Linked DNA regions of Homo sapiens: region 2 is linked to region 1. The links come from fine-mapping of genetic effects on gene expression. A gene starts in region 1. The other region holds a variant in brackets. All regions are shown on one strand. Distances are from middle to middle.

Region 1 (8,394 bases):
AGAGATGGGAGTGATGCGTCTAAAAGCCAAGGAGTGCCAAAGATTGCCAGCAAAACACCAGAGCTGGGAGAGAGGCCTGGAACAGTCTCCCTCACAGCCCTCGGAAGGAACCAGCCCTTCGGATATCTCGATCTCAGACTTCTGGCCTTCAGAACTGAGAATCAGTTTCTGTTGCTTAAGCCGTGCAGTCTGTGGTACTTTGGTACAGTAGCCTTGGCAAGGGAATACAGGTGGGATGGGGCTTACAGCCACTCTTCTCTCCATAAAGTCTTCACCATACCCCCAACCCAAATGGTGTGATCCCAGCCCCATGACACTGTCCTCACTCTTAAACCCCCAGCCCATATGTGCTTGTGTTTGTGTGGCCGCCAGTCTAGGACCCAACTTGTCTTGCCAAAGGTCCAAGTTCCTGAGCCCCAGCCTGACCCCGGCTCTGACACCAAGCTCAGAGTGGGTGAGCTTTGAGGGAGGGGAAGGATGCCATTTCTGCTCACTGAAACCTTTCTTCTCCTACCTTTCCAAAGTAGGAAAGGTTGGGGATAACAGAAACACCAAACCAGGGCTCTGAAGCCCCTCAGGTAATGCTGGCTCTAACGCTGGCTTCTAACCTGCAGCCTCTGGCCTCTCACCCTGGCTGGAGGAGAATCTCTTAGACAGGGACCTCAACTTCCAGTGGTCATGGACTTCCAGTATGTGAACAGCCTCCTTTTTGAGGCTTTCAGGATTGAGCCCAGCCTCACTCAATCAAGCAGTGGTTCAGATCCCTGAGAGGTAGAGGTCATTGCCGGAGACTAGCTGGAGAAGTCAGAGAGCGCTTCCTGGAGGAAGAGCCTATGTTAGTCTGGCTGAAAGGTGTGAGCTTAATTTTACTGCATGACTACTGAGCCAGGCACAGTCACATACTTTCACTTATTTGGTTTCCAGTCAGTTGTGAGGCAGGTGATGTTATTTGCATTTTAGAGGTTAGAAAACTGAGACTCAGAGAAGCGAAATGATTGACTCCAGACCACAGCATTTAAATTCAGGGCCCTCTGGTGATAAGCTCATCTCACTCTTCCGCACCAAGCCCTTTTCCAGGGTCCAGTAGTATTTAAAGGATTTGTGGAGTTTCGAAGTGTGGGGGGCAGGGACGCTGCATGCTGACACAGGGGCAGGGTGGGAACATACTGGGTGAATCTGGGAGCCATGAGGAAGCTGGCCTGATCGATTTCAGCGATTCAGAGGGAACAATGGGAACCACAGCTGGAAAAGGAAGAGGGTCGTAATTTATTAGGCTGAGCATTCAGACTCGCTGGGTAAGCAGCGAGTGAGCGAATGAGCTCTGGATGAGGGGTACAGAGCTGGTGTTTTCAACACCCATCCTGATGGGAGAGGGGCCAACTTGCCAACCTGCTGTGAAGGCATTGTGGCTCTCAAGGAGAAGCATGTGGCCACATCAGAGAGACCCCCTTTCCTTCTTCAACCCTAGCCCCAGATGTCCCTGGGAAGGGAGGACAACCAGCTTGCCTCTGAGGGTCACTACCTAGTGCTCTCCCCTACCTGGGTCGCCTCCACATAGGTCAATTCTGCCAGCAGTGGGCCCATCCTCAGCCACGCCTCCTGTATCTAGGTGGCTCATCAGGACCTAAATGCCCCCTCAGCCTGTCAATCCCTCCTCTGACTTTGCACAAACAGTTTTCTCCGCTTGAATGCTCAGTGTTCTCTTTCCCTCCCCAGTGAACTCCTAGTCAAGACCCAGTTCAATTGTTCATTTTGTTTCTGCAGCCTTTGTGGCTCATTGGCAAGATTCAGTCTCTTCCACTTCTGTACATTGCCATTGTCCTCACTGAGGTCTGGGTGCATGGAGAGCAGATATGAAGCAAATCCTTCAGTTGCTTCTCCTGGTGGGCAGACTAGAAAGGGCCAAGGTAGGAAGGACTAGTGACCTAAACCTCCCTTCCCAAATACCAAGGATGAGGATGAGGTGGGATGAGTGCAGGGCCCATCTGAACTGGACTGCGAAGGGCTTGGCTGGCAGGCACGCTTGGAGAGCAAACCATCCAGTAAGGAAGCACTTTGCAGGGGGCAGTGTGGCCAGGGCGACGATGGGCATGGGGGAGGGAGGGCAAGGACGTTTATGCTTTGACCACTGATTAATGCGCTGGAGCAGTGGGGATGAAAAGAAGATAGTGTCTGAGGCATTTCAAAAGGCAGAGCATTTAGAAATCAGGGCTGTTGGAGGCAGAAGGTATGAGTTTGAGGGTTCAAGGTGTTGGCTGGAATCGGGGGTTATAGAGACCAAAGAGATTATACAGGACCAAGAAGTAAAGGAAGCCTGGGCAAAATAACTCTATCCCCCAACCCCCAGCACATCATGATAGCATCAATACACACCTACTTGTGATCAAGTCCTGTTTATTTCAGAAGCTTGAACAGTAGAACTAGGAAGGAGTGATGAAAACAAGGCACCAGTCCCCTTGACAGGGCCAAATCCGGCACAAGCTCTGTCTGTGCGATCAAGGCTGACCCAGCAGCCTCAATCCGCCTTTTCCTGTGAGGAGAGGGTTTGAGGACAACCTGCGCACAGGTGACTGTTCCATAGGGTGAGGTTGGGGTAAGTTGGCTCTGGGTTCCTCTGGATCAGCTGCAAAAGGCCAGAGGGCCCCCAGTACCCTTGGCCAAGAGCATTCCATGCTGACTCTGTCTGTGCTCAGGCAAAGCCACATTCTGGAGAGGAAGCCGTAGTGCCTGGTGGGCACCAGGAAGGCCTCAGGTGTTCAAGAACAACTTGCAATGAGGCTCCATGGCCAGCAAGCACCTGCTTCCCCAGCCCAGTCATCTCTGCAGAGCCTTCCAGGAGGGGGCAGGGGGCATCCCAGGCAGCCAGACTTCTCAGGACCCCTCTGTTGGGTGACATAAGCCACAGGCCTCTATACATACTGCTTCTTAGAAGCAGAGCTGCTGGGACGACTTGGGGGTTTTTGGCCATTCTGAGGGGGTGGGTCCAGGAAGAGAGGGGGCCTGGAAGACGCCAGCCTCTCCTCTGTGGTCAGGTTGGCCCAGTTCTGCTCACTGGATGAGAGCCCATTGTAGGTGGGGCATGGTGGGGATGAGGGCCCCTGGCCCACGGGGAGGTAGAAGAAGACCTGGTCCGTGTAAGGGTCTGAGGAGGTGCCCTGGGTCGGGGGTGCGTCTTGGCCTTGCCGTGCCCTCATCCCCCGGCTGAGGCAGCGACACAGCAGGTGCACCAACTCCAGCAGGTTAAGCACCAGGGAGATGAGTCCAACCACCAACATGAAGATGATGAAGATGGTCTTCTCCGTGGGGCGAGAGACAAAGCAGTCCACGAGGTAGGGGCAGGGTGCTCGCTGGCACACAAACACGGGCTCCATGGTCCAGCCGTACAGGCGCCACTGGCCATAGAGGAAGCCTGCCTCTAGCACACTCTTGCAGAGCACACTGGCGACATAGGTGCCCATCAGTGCTCCGCGGATGCGCAGGCGACCATCTTCTGCCACCGAGATCTTGGCCATCTGACGCTCTACGGCCGCCAGCGCCCGCTCCACCTGTGGGTCCTTGGCCGGCAGTGCCCGCAGCTCCCCCTCCTTCTGCCGCAGCCGCTCTTCTCGCCGAGACAGGTAAATGACATGGCCCAGGTAGACCAGGGTGGGTGTGCTGACGAAGAGGAACTGCAGCACCCAGTAGCGGATGTGGGAGATGGGGAAGGCCTGGTCATAGCAGACGTTGGTGCAGCCTGGCTGGGCCGTGTTACACTCGAAATCTGATTGCTCGTCACCCCACACTGACTCGCCGGCCAGGCCCAGGATGAGGATGCGGAAGATGAAGAGCACCGTCAGCCAGATCTTACCCACCACGGTCGAGTGCTCCTGGACCTGGTCCAGCAACTTCTCCAGGAAGCCCCAGTCACCCATGGCTCCCGGGCCTCCGTCTGCAAGGAGACAGAGCACGTCAGTGTGTCAGCATGGCATCCTTCTCGTTCGCCCAGCAACAAGCCTGCAGGGAGGTCTGCCACGCCCGTTCTACCTACAAAGAAACCCAGGCTCAGGAAGGGGAAGGACTGGCCTGGAGGCTCCCACTCAGCAGTGCAGGCAGGACCCAACCCAGATTTTTGGATGATGGCTGCCCACCTCTTTGTATGGTCTCATTCTGCTTTGGCTAAGGTCCCTGCCTAATCAGACATCTATGTCCCTCTTGTCCCCGAGCCACTGCCCCAGGATGGACACAGGCCAAGGAAATCTGGGTGGAGTTGAGGCTCCTTTGCCTATGGGAACAGAATTTGAGGAACTTATCCAAAGTTGTGCAGCTGGGCTAAGCCCTTCCTCCCTTTTGCCCAAGGCTGGCTACCCCCAGACAGTGGGAGCTAGTGATGATGGTAGAGGTGTTATCTTCTGCTTCTTAGGGGGCTCAAAGCCTCAGGTCCCTGCTCCCCGCCTCATATCTTACCCAGCTGGCTTCACTCTAATCTTTGAGCCTGCAGGGGCTGGGTAGTGGAAGGGGTTTTAGGAGCTGAAGGCAGCATCATCCTTTAGCTCCACCGGTCAGCAATAATGACCACCTGCCACTTGAGGAGGGACATTTGGTCCTGTCTTCTTCCTCCACCTCCACTCCCACCCCCTTCCACCTCCAAAGCTGATGCTGGCAAATTCTAGACTCTTGAAAGGAATTGTCATTGCAGGGTGAGGCACAGGCCACAAAGTTCCCAAGGGGGAGGTGCCTCTTCCCAAGTGCAAAGCTGTTTAGAGCCAGGCTCTGGAAGCGGCCCTGGGTTCAAATCTTGCCTTTTAGTAACTGCGGCCCCTTGGATAAGGAACAACCTCTGGGCCCCTCAGTCTCCTCCACGATAGAGTGGAAACAATAGTATTCCTCCCGCCTCGGGTTGTTACAAGGATTCCATGGAAAGAGGGTGGGAGCCTGGCCAAGGCCACCTGGGTGAGCGCGGCTCTGTCGCGGCGGGCGTTCCGCAGCAACCCCCGTCCCGGCATCGGAGGACCCAAGACTCCTCCCGGCCTCCCGCGAGCAGGTGGCGCCCCTGGTCCCTTCCTAGCCCCCGACTCACCGCCTGCCTGCCGGGCGGCCCAGGTGGAGGTGGGGACGATGGCCGGAGTGACGCCCGCGGGAGCCCTGCTGGACCGCACGAGCGGCGGGGGCGCCTTAAATAGCGCAGAGGGGCGGGGTGGGGGCAGGAAACGCGACGGGGAGGGCGGCGGGCGCTGGAGAGAGGGCGGGGGCGGGGACTGGGAGGTGCAGACTCCCTAAACCCACTCCGGGGAGGTGGGCCTGTGTGATTTGCGGTGGGGAGGGGCAAGAGGGGCTGACCTACCCTTCCTCTCCTCTGTTCTCTCTCCACCAGGTATTCCAGACAGTAAACTCTCCTGTCGTTTCTTTGGCCAGGGAAGGAGAGTTCTCCCAGGCCAGGATCTCTCAGGGTGGCTGGATTTGAAGGGGTTGCAGTAAGGGCTGTGGATCTGGGCAACTGGCCTGCGGGGCTGTGAGGGGTGGGCGGATGGGGATGGAGTGTGGGGACCACTCATTTGCTAGGTGGCTGGCCCTAGTGTGCCAGGATGAGGCGATCAAGGCTAATTACGGCGCGGGAAGCTCCAATGGGGGACAGGGGTTGTAATCCACACCTCCAGCATACATGGTGGAGCAGGCGTCTCTATCCACGCCCAGCCCACGTTCTTCCAGAATTCTCAAACATCCCCATGTCTGGGCAGGCTACACAATCAGAGGCCATTAAGCAATTCCCATGGACTCCTTGAGACTGGGGGTGGGGGAACCACCTGACCTTTAGCTTGGACCCCGTTCTTATGCCTCTAAATGGTGGCTGGGTGGTGTGGGGGACATCCATAGGAATGAAAGGGCTATGCGGAGCCTGCCTTCATGCATTCAGGCATCACAGGTGGATGAGCATCAGTGAGCATCTGCTGTGCTGCAGACGCTGCTTGGGGACCTGGGGATACCCTGAGGAACCAGCCAAACTTGGTCTCTGGCCTCCTCCCTCACTGGCTGGTGCAGGGATTGAGCATATCAGCCCTTGGATAACGGTAAGATAATAAATGTGGAAAGTTCTCCTGAGAGGTACTGGGTGATTCCCAGGGGACTTGGTTAGGAACATTTCCTGGAGGAGAGGAAATGCTTTTCCCCCTCCATTAGCCAAGTGGAAGGGAAGAGCATTCTAGGTAGAGGGGCGGCATGAGTGTGGCTCGAGGGCCTGGAGCTGTGGGGTTCTGAGACTGTGGCCACTGCCCTCGGAGTGCTGAGACGTTGTTGGTGGCTGAGCCCAGGAGCTGAGACTTTGCTGTTGACTCCTGTACCCTTAGGCAAGTTACTCAAATCCCTGTGCCTCAATTTCTTCCTCTACAGAATGAGAATAGTGATAGTATCTACTTTGTGGGGTTGATGGCATACAGTGTGATCAAAGCACATAGTGTAATAGTGGTACATAAAGTTTTTCAAGTGAGTGGTGGCTAAAAACATTGTGATACTGTAACAAAAAGGGTCTGTGGGTTGTTCTTAGAGGGTGGTAGGGGCTGGCGCAGCTGAGGAAAGGGAAGGTGGCAGGGGGCTGTTGAGGCCTGGGGCTGGTGGCACAGAAGTCCCTGTTCCTCCACAGCAAGATTTAGTCCTTGGATTCCCTGGGCCCCAGGGCCGGGTCCCTGAGGGTTCTGTCTTCAGGACCAGCAGGAGGACATCTTTGGGGACACGCAGACCTGAGAACTTCAGGGCTAGCTGCCCTGAGGGATCCGGCTGGGCTGGCTTCCCCTCTAGGCCTCTCCCTCAGGGCCAGGCTGAACTGAGTCTCCTGGATTTCTGAAGCTAACAACTGCCCCACTTAATTCTGACCCTTGAGGGCATGAGAACCGAGGCCCCTGGAGGCTGGTTCTCACCACGCCCCCACTGCAGCCTCTGCTCACTACCGAGTTTTCCTCTCTTGGGGCTGGGCCCAGCTCTCCCAAAGCCTTTCTGATTCAGTATACTGGGAAAGAGGGAAGAGCCAGTGGAGGGCTGGGGAGTGACGTCAAGGCTGCCCTCACCCTGCTCTGACTCCTTCCTCAAGGGCTTTGGAGGTTTGAATAACTCGGCCTCCTCCCCAGAGGATGAAGAAGCTGGGATCAACTAAGACAACAGTTACCACAACCTGGTCATTCCACCTGGAAATGTCCCTGGAACCACATGCTTCCCTGCATTCCCTTTGCCCTGGTCCTGTTCAGGCTGCTGCCACCTCAGTGGCCTCCCAGCTGGTCTCTTGACCTCTAGCCCCACCCTTCCAACTCAGCCTCCACACTTCCCTAGAAATCTGACCAACATCGCCCTGCTGAAAAGTCATCTATGGCTCCCTATCACCTTCTGGGTAAGCCCTAGGCTCCCCAACCTCCAGTCCCTGGCCACTTCTCCAGCCTTACCCCTCACCCTTCTCGCTGTGACCCAACCAGGTCTCACTGATGGGGTTCTCTGTGCGCTCTTGCCTTTGTCCCTGCTGTTCCCTCTGCATGGAGCACCCTCACGTGCTGAACGCTGTGAATCAGGACTTTTCTCAGTTGTTGCCTTCTCCCAGAAGTCCCCTTGCTGGCTCCCTCTGTGCTAGGTGTACCTTTGTGCTTTCAGCAGCTCAGCTACTACCCATGGTGCTTTGTTTTTGTTATTTAAAAATTTTTAATTATGTTAAAAAGCAGCTACCATAAAATGTATCATCTTAAGGATTTTAAGTGTACAGTTCAGTAGTGTTGAGTATATTCACGTTGTTTTGCAACAGATCTCCAGAACTTTGCCATCTTGCAAAACTGAAACTCTGTCTCTAGTAAACCACTCCCCTTTCCCCATTCCTTGGTGCATGGTCTACTTATCTTTATTCCCCTCCTCCATTAGACTGTGAGCCCTTTGAGGGCAGGCAGCTGGGTCTTTATATCTCCACCACCTAGCAGGGCACCAGATCTGTATATAAATTTGTTAATTTAACAAGTATTTAGTTTGGTGCAAAAGTAATTGTGGTTTTTGCTATTAAAAGCAATAGTTACTAAGCACCTCCTATGTGCTGTGATGCCATCCTAGACAGTGGAGATAACCAGGGAACAACAACAAAAAAATCCCTGTCCTCGGAGGTTTTACATTCTAGCAAAATGTAGAACATGTTAGACGGTGATGAATGCTCTGGGGGAAATGAAGTAGGGAGGAGTGAGAGTGCAGGGGTGGCAAGTTTCAGTTTCTTTTGTTTTTTTTTTTTTTTGAGATGGAGTCTTGCTCTGTTGCCCAGGCTGGAGTGCAGTGGTGCGATCTTAACTCACTGCAACCTCCACCTCCCAGGTTCAAGCGATTCTCCTGCCTCAGCCTCTCAAGTAGCTGGGACTACAGGCGCATGCCACCACGCCCAGCTAATTTTTGTATTTTTAGTAGAGA
Region 2 (8,253 bases), 50 kb before region 1:
AATGATCATTGTCAATAAATGTTGAATGAATTAAGAGGTCCTGGAGTGTGATTCTGGGATGGAGCAGGTACTGGGGCTGGGTGTGGGGACAGGTCTCTTAGAAGGATAGGGAGCAGGGCCGCCAGGTGTGTGCTTTGAGGTGCCTGGCAGCTTAGAGCTAATGGCAGCTGTGTTTTGCTACAGCGTTACCTTCCCCAAGGCTGGTAATGGGATGAACCAAAAGAAACTACTGACTTATTTTTCTAGGGGACTGGGGCTTGGGCAGAAGGCTGCATTTTCCTCCTGGGTAGGACCTGGATCAGGATAGCCCATGATGAATTTGACCCTGATGACTCTATAGTGGGGAACAATGTCCTCAGGAAAGCATTCAGGAAACCCTTCGTGTAGTAGTGATCAAAGCTCTGGAGCAGCTCAGCAGGATGGATGGGAAAACTCCAAGGAATCCAGCAAGGCCCAGGGATCCTCTTAATGCACTTACCAGGTGGAGCTCTCCAGCAGCCTCTCGGCAGACCCTTGGACCAACCCTTTGGTTTGAGGAATCCTGGGAAGGGGTGAGAATGGCTTCCTGGAGATCCTGTGGGAGCCACTGCTTCTGGAGTGTCTCTGTTTTATCTCCATTTTCCCCTTCATGCCTTCCCTCTAGCCACATGCCTGAGAGGGTGGGGTGGGCTGGTAGGTGAAGCCTGTAAGCATTGAAAATAGAGATGGGGAAGGCTCTGGTTTCCCCACCTCCTCAAGAAGCAGACTATAAGCCTTCTTGTATTTATATGAAACCCTCTTTCCACTTGTCTGTCATTCCCAAGGAGTTCAAATAAAAGAGAGAAAATCACTGATTCTTCTTCTGCCCCTCGAGTGGGAAATGGCTCCCCCAAGATAATGGGATTCTTAGCAGAGCTGGCCCTGTGGCGGCCCCATGCCCCCTCCCTTTCCCAGCTTGCACCTTGTCATCATGCCAAACCAAGGTCAGCTTCTGGCCTGCAGTTTGCTTGAGTTGACGATGAGGGGAAACCCTCTTGGGTGCCTGCCGGCCGTAGGGCATAGCCACAGCCCCTCTGGCTGGTGGCTCATGTGACTTACCTCTGATGAAGGTTGCAGCCTGCTTTTCCTGCCCCCTCCCAGTTTTGTTTGCCCAGCACACAGACTAAAGAATAACTCCTGGGGTACCTCTGCCCCTTTGATCCTCTCCAAGCTGTTTTCCCCACGTGCGGGAGGGTAGGAGGTCACAGTCTTTCCCACAGATGCGAGTCCTGTGTGTTTATAATTTGGTTGATTGATGACAAGGTGGATTGTTCAGCTGCTATTGTCCCTAAAGCCCTGTCCTTGGCTGGCTCTCACCTCACTGATATATGCTGGGGCCTTGATGGGCTCAGACCCCACCCCACCCCACCTCCCACCCTGCAATCTGCTCTCCTCAAGAAGCTCAGCTCTGGAGCTAGACTGCTCCCATTCAAAGCCCAGCACTGCCTCTTACAGCTGCAGTCCTTTGGCAAGCTTCTTCTCAGTGTCTTCTGTGTCAAATGGGGCTAATGTATGACTTACGGGGTTATTGCAAGGATTCAAGGAAAACACACCAAAGCATCTGGAACAGTGGCTCACATATAGTTAGCACTAGGAAAAGTTGGTTGTTGTGATTAGAAGTATTTTTTCCATTCTATGCATTTAGCCACACTTTAGGACCCTGATTTCTCTCTGGGCTCTAAGAGAGGGTGCCTGAGTGTAGTGGGGAAACTGAGGCCTACAGTAGCCCTGTGGCCGACAGCTGGGGAACCATGAGGGTACCCTGATCCTCAGCCCAGAGGCCTGTTGGCTGTGCTGTTTGTTGCTTCTCTGCCCCTGTCTCACTGTCCCTGCTCTGAGTCCCCAGGCCTTTCCTGGACTGCCTTGGTGTCTTGTAGCAATCCCAACCTGCACACAGCCTTGGTTGGCTCACTGATTGGCCTTCAGGCAGTTAGAGATTTCTGGAGGAGGCTGGAGAAGCTGAGGGTTGACTAAGGGTGGTGCTGAGCTGAGGGGACCCTGCCCGGGCTACTGGGGCTCTTGGGAGTGTGTTGGAGGGGGTCCCCCAGACTCTTGTTCATGACCCCCAGACAGGGGAAGTGTCTTAGTTTGTCAGGGCTGCCATAATGAAACACCACAGAGTGGCTCACCGACCTCAGAGACTTATTTTCTCACAGTTCTGGAGGCTGGAAGTCCAAGATCAAGGTGCCAACTTGATTGGGTTTTCCTGAGGCCTCTCTCTCTGGCTTGCAGGTGGGCACCCTTTTGCTGCCTGTTTACATGGGTATCTCTCTGTGCCTGTGCACTCCTGGTGTATCCAAATTTCCTCTTAAAAAGACACCATCAGGTTAGATTAGGGCCCACCCTAATGGCCACATTTTAACTTAATCTTATCTTTAAAAGCCTATCTCCAAATACAGTCATATTATGAAGAAATATGAAGTTTAGGACTTCAACATATGAATCTTGTGGGGACACATTTCAGCAGTAACAGAAAGACAGACGGCAGCAGCATGAAGCGGGCCGCTGCCGCCGGGGAAACCTCTGCACGGGAGAGCGGCTACAGCCAAAGCCTTTAATGGGGAGGCGCTCAGCCTACCCTGGGGAGAGGCTGGTGTTGGGTCCTCGTCCCTCTCTCCCACAAGAGGCCCTAGAGTGAGAACTAAATGCCTGAGGCCGGAAGGCTCTGTGAGCTGATTATCCCTGTGGTCTCTGGGGTGAAGGAACAGTCAGCAGGCCCCAGGCACTGTCCTGTCCTTCCCCTGCCTTATCAGAGCCTCGACTCCCTTCCGCCTCTAGGCTGTGACCCAGGCTCTCCCCATGAGCAGTGACTTTGAAGGGGGTAACATCGCCACCTTTGTTTTAGCTGAGCTCTGCAGCTCTCCATGTACCCCACCTGGCAGGGAGTGGTTTAGAAATAGCACCGAGAGTTCAAACATCACTTCTATTATTTTTTCCAGGAGATTTACTTGTCTGACTGAGTTGGTTTAGGCTGATATTCTAGTAAAGACTTTCCTCTCTGAGTGCCATGTGTTTTCTGATAAAAGCTGAGGGCGGGTAGGGAAGTGGCTCAGAAACTTTCTGGAAGTCAGAATTGGCCACAGATGACAAGTAAGTGCTTTGCCTGGCCCTGGAGCCCACCTCCCCATCAGTCTTTCACGCAGCCCCATTAGGTGGGCTAGAGATCATCTCAGGGTCCTCTGATGGTGCACTGCCCTCCCCCAGCATCCTACATCTCCCTCTGGGGTCAGTAGTTCTGGGTCTTTCACGGCCTCTTGTCCCCCCAGGCCCAGAAGCCAGCATTGGAGGGGCAGGAAGGATGGATGCTTTAGGTCCAGCTGCCTGCTGCCTTCTGCCCAGCCAGGTCCACAGAGTCCTAGGATTGCAGAGGTTCCCTGGCTTCTTGGAAAAGGGCTAGAAGGCAGCCACCCTGCTTTTCCTGTGGACTTCATTAGTCTTGGGAACCCAAGGCAGACAAATCCCAGAAAAGAAGAGAAGGAAAACTGTGCTCACTGAGCTCCTTTAGGCTGAGTGTTGTGCCGGATGCCTCTGATATCTCATTTAATCCTCTCAAGAGCCCTGCAAAGCAGGGGTTGTTTTCTCCATTTTATAGATAGGGAAACTGAGACTCAGGGGCTAAGTAACTGAATCGCACGTTGAGCGAGTGGTTGTGCTGGGAGCGAAGCCTAGGTCTGCAGGCTTTGGAGCTCTGGTCTACTTCCAGTGAAGCTGGCTGTTCCTCCCAGCTTCACTGTGCCCTTGGCCTTTCTTCCCCTTGGACAGTGGAGGGTGGAGGGTGGGAAAGTCAGTGGGGGCTTCCTCCCCTCCTCTTTCCTTTCATCTCCAGAGACCTCTTTGTTTTCCCTGATTCCTGGACACACTGGGCTCAGGGCTCCTGACTGACTGGGCTGCAGCTCTCAGATCTCCAATGACTAGGAGGGAATGAATGGGTTGTCACCTCTTGACCTGTATCCCCCACCCCCACTACGTCTCCTACCCCAGCAACCACAATGGCCTGAGGCTAATTCAGTGCCGTCATTGTTGACCGTGGAGAACAATGCTCAGAGACAGGCTGCTGGCGGGACTGGGTGCAGCCACCTGCTCCTCTCCAGCACTGTTTCTCCCATGCTAGGAAGTTGGGAGATGACTTTCCATGTGTGAGATATGAGGGTCCTGAGAGGAGGTGTGAGAGGAGGGAGCAAACGGTAATCTCCCCATTCCCCCATATCCAAACCATTTCCCAGTGCCAAGCAAGGCTGTGGGTACTATGGGCTTCCTCTTACTAGGCTGTGGGTCACATGGCTCCCCCCTCACTAGCTGTGAGACCGTGGGCAAAGTCACTTAGCTTCTCTGCGTCCTAGTCTTTAATATAGGGATTTACTACCTCCTTCACCAAGTAATTGAGGGGAAAGCTCTTAGCATAGTGCCTCATTCCATAGAAGACATCAGTTCTCCCTCTTGCCCCTGCTTTCCTGGTAATTGGCAGGTGCGCTTGATCTTTTGGGCCAGCTTGTGCTGGGAGGCAAGGTGCTGTGGGGAGGCACAACCTGGGAGAGCCTTTCCTGAGTCCAGCTGGAGCCAGAGATAAAGGAGGCCTCCCTGCTTCCCCAGCTGTCTTGCTTCGCTTTGCTTTTTGTAACACGGAGGAAGCTGAAGGCATTGTGATTATCGGCTCCGGGAAGATAAACTTGAAGGGTGACTTAATGAGCATTTGTAAACCTAT[C/T]GAAGGTTATCATTCAGGGCAGAGTGACCGGCGGACACGCGGAAATGGGTTTAGTATGCAGCAAAGGTATGTGAGTAGACATGAGAAAGCCTTTCCCAGCAGGAGAAGGCCTGGGAACTTGAAAGGGGGGGTCGGGGGTGAGACTGAGGAAGCCTGTAAAATCTTTAAAAATAGGTCATTTTGTTCTGACTGGGCTTGGGTGGGGTTTGGTTAAGAGGTGAAGGGACAGGTCAGAGACCAGCCAGGAATTCACCCTTGAATCAGAAGTCAGGTGAGACTGGCTGGTGGCATCCTTAGGCAAACAGAGTTGCGTTTTATAGGGGAGCCTGGGCTAGGGGGTAGACAGGGAAACCCTGCCTCTGGACCCACCCCCAGCTTTGACTTGCTGTATTTTCAGAGACAGCACAGGAAGTGGGCCTTCACAATGTCAGGATACAGGAAGCTATCGGACTATTGAAGGCCACTTCCTGTGAGCTGGTCATTCACATACATTTGTCACCGGCTATCAGGCCTTTTGGGCTCTGCCATTGTCTGGAGGGGCTGCAAAAGACTAGGGGCTGCCAGCAGAGGCTTTTGGACACAGAATACACTATTGTGCTGAACTGGCAGCACCCCATGGTGTGGGGAGGAAAGTGGTGGGTAAGAAAGGGGACGCCTGGCTCTCATTGTCATTGGTTGCACAATGGGGTTGGGGGTTGGGTCCTCTCCTGCTCATGGGAGCCTGAACTTCTGGGAGATGAGATGGCTACACAGAAGCCTGGCTTTAGGCATGATACCGGAGTGAGCTGGAAAGGAGGTCCATCACTTTATTAGCAGTGATGGGCTTTCTAGATCTCTGCCATTGGCCAGTGTGACATAGCATGGGCTTGGAGTCAGGCAGACCTAGATTTCGAAGTCATACCTCACTGCTATCAATGGTGCAACTTTGCGCATATACCACCCTACCCCTCTGAGCTTTAGTCCTGCTCCTGTGAAGTGAGGACAGTAAGAACTGACTCATAGGGATGATCATTGCTTGAAATAATCTGTTGAAGTCTTTAGCTTGATACTTGGCACTTATTAGATGTCTAAGAAATATGAGTTCCTTCTCCATCCTCATCTCCTTCCCTTCTAGTTCACTTCTGACCCTACTGCCTGGTCTGCCAGTGAGCAAGTGAATTAGTGAGTGCAGGGGTATGAAGAGATATTTTAATATCAGCCCAAACAAAGCATTACTTCTGCCTTTTTTTTAATGCCAAGACGATCAAATAGACCGTTAATTATCTGCACTAATGGATGGCACAGTCACAGATCATTTTTTCTGGCCATGTGCCTTTGGCCTTATGTGTGAATCTGGGTGTGTCTGATTTCTGGAAGTTCACATCAATGCAGTTGTAACAGGGCAGACCTGCTCTGGAGGAGATGAGTTAGAGAACTGTCTAGCAGCCCATGAATTTGACCTGCTCAACTCTGAGACCCACCGGTGCCAGGAAGAGGCCACTCTCTTTCTCAGCTGTCTGATAGGTGGAAAACCATGGACTTTGGAGGCAGACACTTGGGTTCAGATCTTGACTCTGGCCCTAACTAATGGTGTGACAGGGAAAGTTATTTGACTTCTTTGAGTCTCTGTCTCTTTACTTATAATCTGAGCTTAATCATATTTACTTTGCAGGTCTCTGTGAAGATAAAATAAGGTAATGCACATGCTCCTCACCTAGTCACGTTTTCCTTCCATTTCTTTCCCTTCTCCTCTTTTCTCTGTCACTCAGCCCTACCCTGAGCAGAGATCCCTTTCTAATCATTGCTGGTGTACAGATATAGTTAAGTGTTTGGACTTGAGGATCCTACTGCCCTACAGCACAGGAGAACCAGGCCTCTGTTCATTGTGGTAGCCATTAGCCACATGTGACTATTTAAAGTAAAATGAACAAAAATGAAAAATTAGCTCCTCACTAGCCACACGTGGCTAGTGGCTATTGTATTAGACAGTGGGGACAGACATTTCTATCATTGCAGAATGTCCTATTGGATAGTGCTGAGTGAGAGGGTGTGATATAACCATGGAACCTGATAAGCAGAAGGAAATAAATTAATGAGGAAAAAGGATTTGGTTGGCTGAGAACTGAGTAAAATAGTATCCCTCTACTATTTGAAGCGTCCATGGGGTTTGGACTCTTGATGTTGGTTCTCTTCTTCCATTGGTAGAGTTAATCCAGTGCACACTTGGTCTAACACTCAAATGCCAGGAACCTCTGGGGCTGGACTGAGAAAGCTGCCCAAGCAGGCCCTGTGCTCCACGGATGGGTCATGGCCAGGCCTTACTGACTAACAGAGTTTGCCTTGTGTTCTATGGCCCCTATACAGGTGTGAATTGTGACGGCTTAGGCCCAGGGAAGCCACAACTGCCCTAGGACTCTTTATACCAATACCTGCCACTCTAGACTCTTCCCTTTGTCTCCCATCCTTGTCACAGAAACCATAGACAATCATATGGCCTTGCCCTGATGTCAATGACAGACTCATCCCCCAAGCATAGATTGTAGTTGTGGCATGTGGCTCGTAGTCTCTCCCTCCTCTGCTGCAGGCACCGATCCTACCACTCTTAACCAGGCTGCTCCCTGAGCCTTCGTGGGCTGCTGGGCTCTGGAATTATTAGCTTTGTTGCCAACAGCCTGGTGTGCATGAGTCCTGGGCACCCCTGGACCAAAGCCATCCAACCTCAGCTGCATATTCCCAGTTTATACAGTTTATCAGCCCTGCTTTGCTTCCTGACACTCTGACTAGCCTTGTCAGCATCCCCCTCTGCTCCCCTTGGAGGAATGGGGCTGGGTGTCTGTACTCCTAAGCTCTGGACTGGGCTCCTGCTCTGAACATGTCTGTTTCCTGAAACCCCAATTCTGAAATCTGTCTGCTCTGCACATCAAACTGGCCTCAAGATACCAGCATTGGGCTGGATCTTGTATTTGGAGTAACTCACCCTCCCTGCCCACGTCCCAGCTTCCTGTCCTTTCCCATCAGCTGTACCAACAGTGGAGGCTCAGCAAGCCTGGCACCTGAGGCCATGGCTGTTGGACAGGTCTAGGAAGGCCCTGTAGGCTGGCCTACCATGGGGGGGTTCCCAGACGTCACAGCAATTAGAGTTCATAGGAGCTTGGCAGGTGCCAAGGTTAGGAGCCTATCTGGGATCACGTGTGAGGCCAAGTTTTCCCCAAACTTGGGAGGGATCAGGGTCTGTAGCCCAGAGTATGTTCTGCTCCCATTGCTCGTTTCAGAGTTGTAGATCTTGAGGCAAAGAAAAGAGAAATGGCCGCACAAGGCCACACTGGGGTGTCTGAGTAGTGATCAACCATCCAGGTTGCTTCTGAAGTCTCCTAGCCCTTTTCATTCAAGCCTGGGGTCACTCTCTTGTTCTCTAGCACAGAATAAGCTGTTCTCTTGTCCCCTATCTGATCTCTTCCTCTTTCCCTCCCTGCCCGTGTGAAGTTGTGTGAGAAAGGTGGTCCACAGGCACCAGGTTTCCAAAGACACTGGCAACTGCCCCACCACCAATTCTT

Direction of the effects. Alleles are on the strand shown, and positions count from the first base shown. SD is a standard deviation of normalised expression in the study named.
In carriers of allele T in region 2, the expression in iPS cells of the gene that starts at base 5,126 in region 1 tends to be higher than with C alone (moderate effect, 0.57 SD a copy in HipSci).

What was found. PIP is the estimated chance that this variant, and not a neighbour inherited with it, causes the effect.
Region 2: its variant is fine-mapped to the expression of GJA4 in iPS cells (HipSci, PIP 0.95).

What each region holds. Positions count from the first base shown.
Region 1 is chr1:34,789,731-34,798,124 of GRCh38, reverse strand. GJA4 (gap junction protein alpha 4) reads right to left here and starts at 5,126. Exons shown (of 2, transcript NM_002060.3): 1 at 5,057-5,126; 2 at 2,378-3,928. The coding sequence starts at 3,911. The coding sequence ends at 2,910. RefSeq lists a silencer at 3,709-3,863 and an enhancer at 5,568-6,068.
Region 2 is chr1:34,840,123-34,848,375 of GRCh38, reverse strand. No RefSeq gene overlaps it. Among named protein-coding and RNA genes, the nearest start is that of SMIM12, 16 kb to the left of the region's middle. RefSeq lists enhancers at 485-1,170, 5,294-5,981. The variant C/T (reference allele first, on the strand shown) is at 4,721.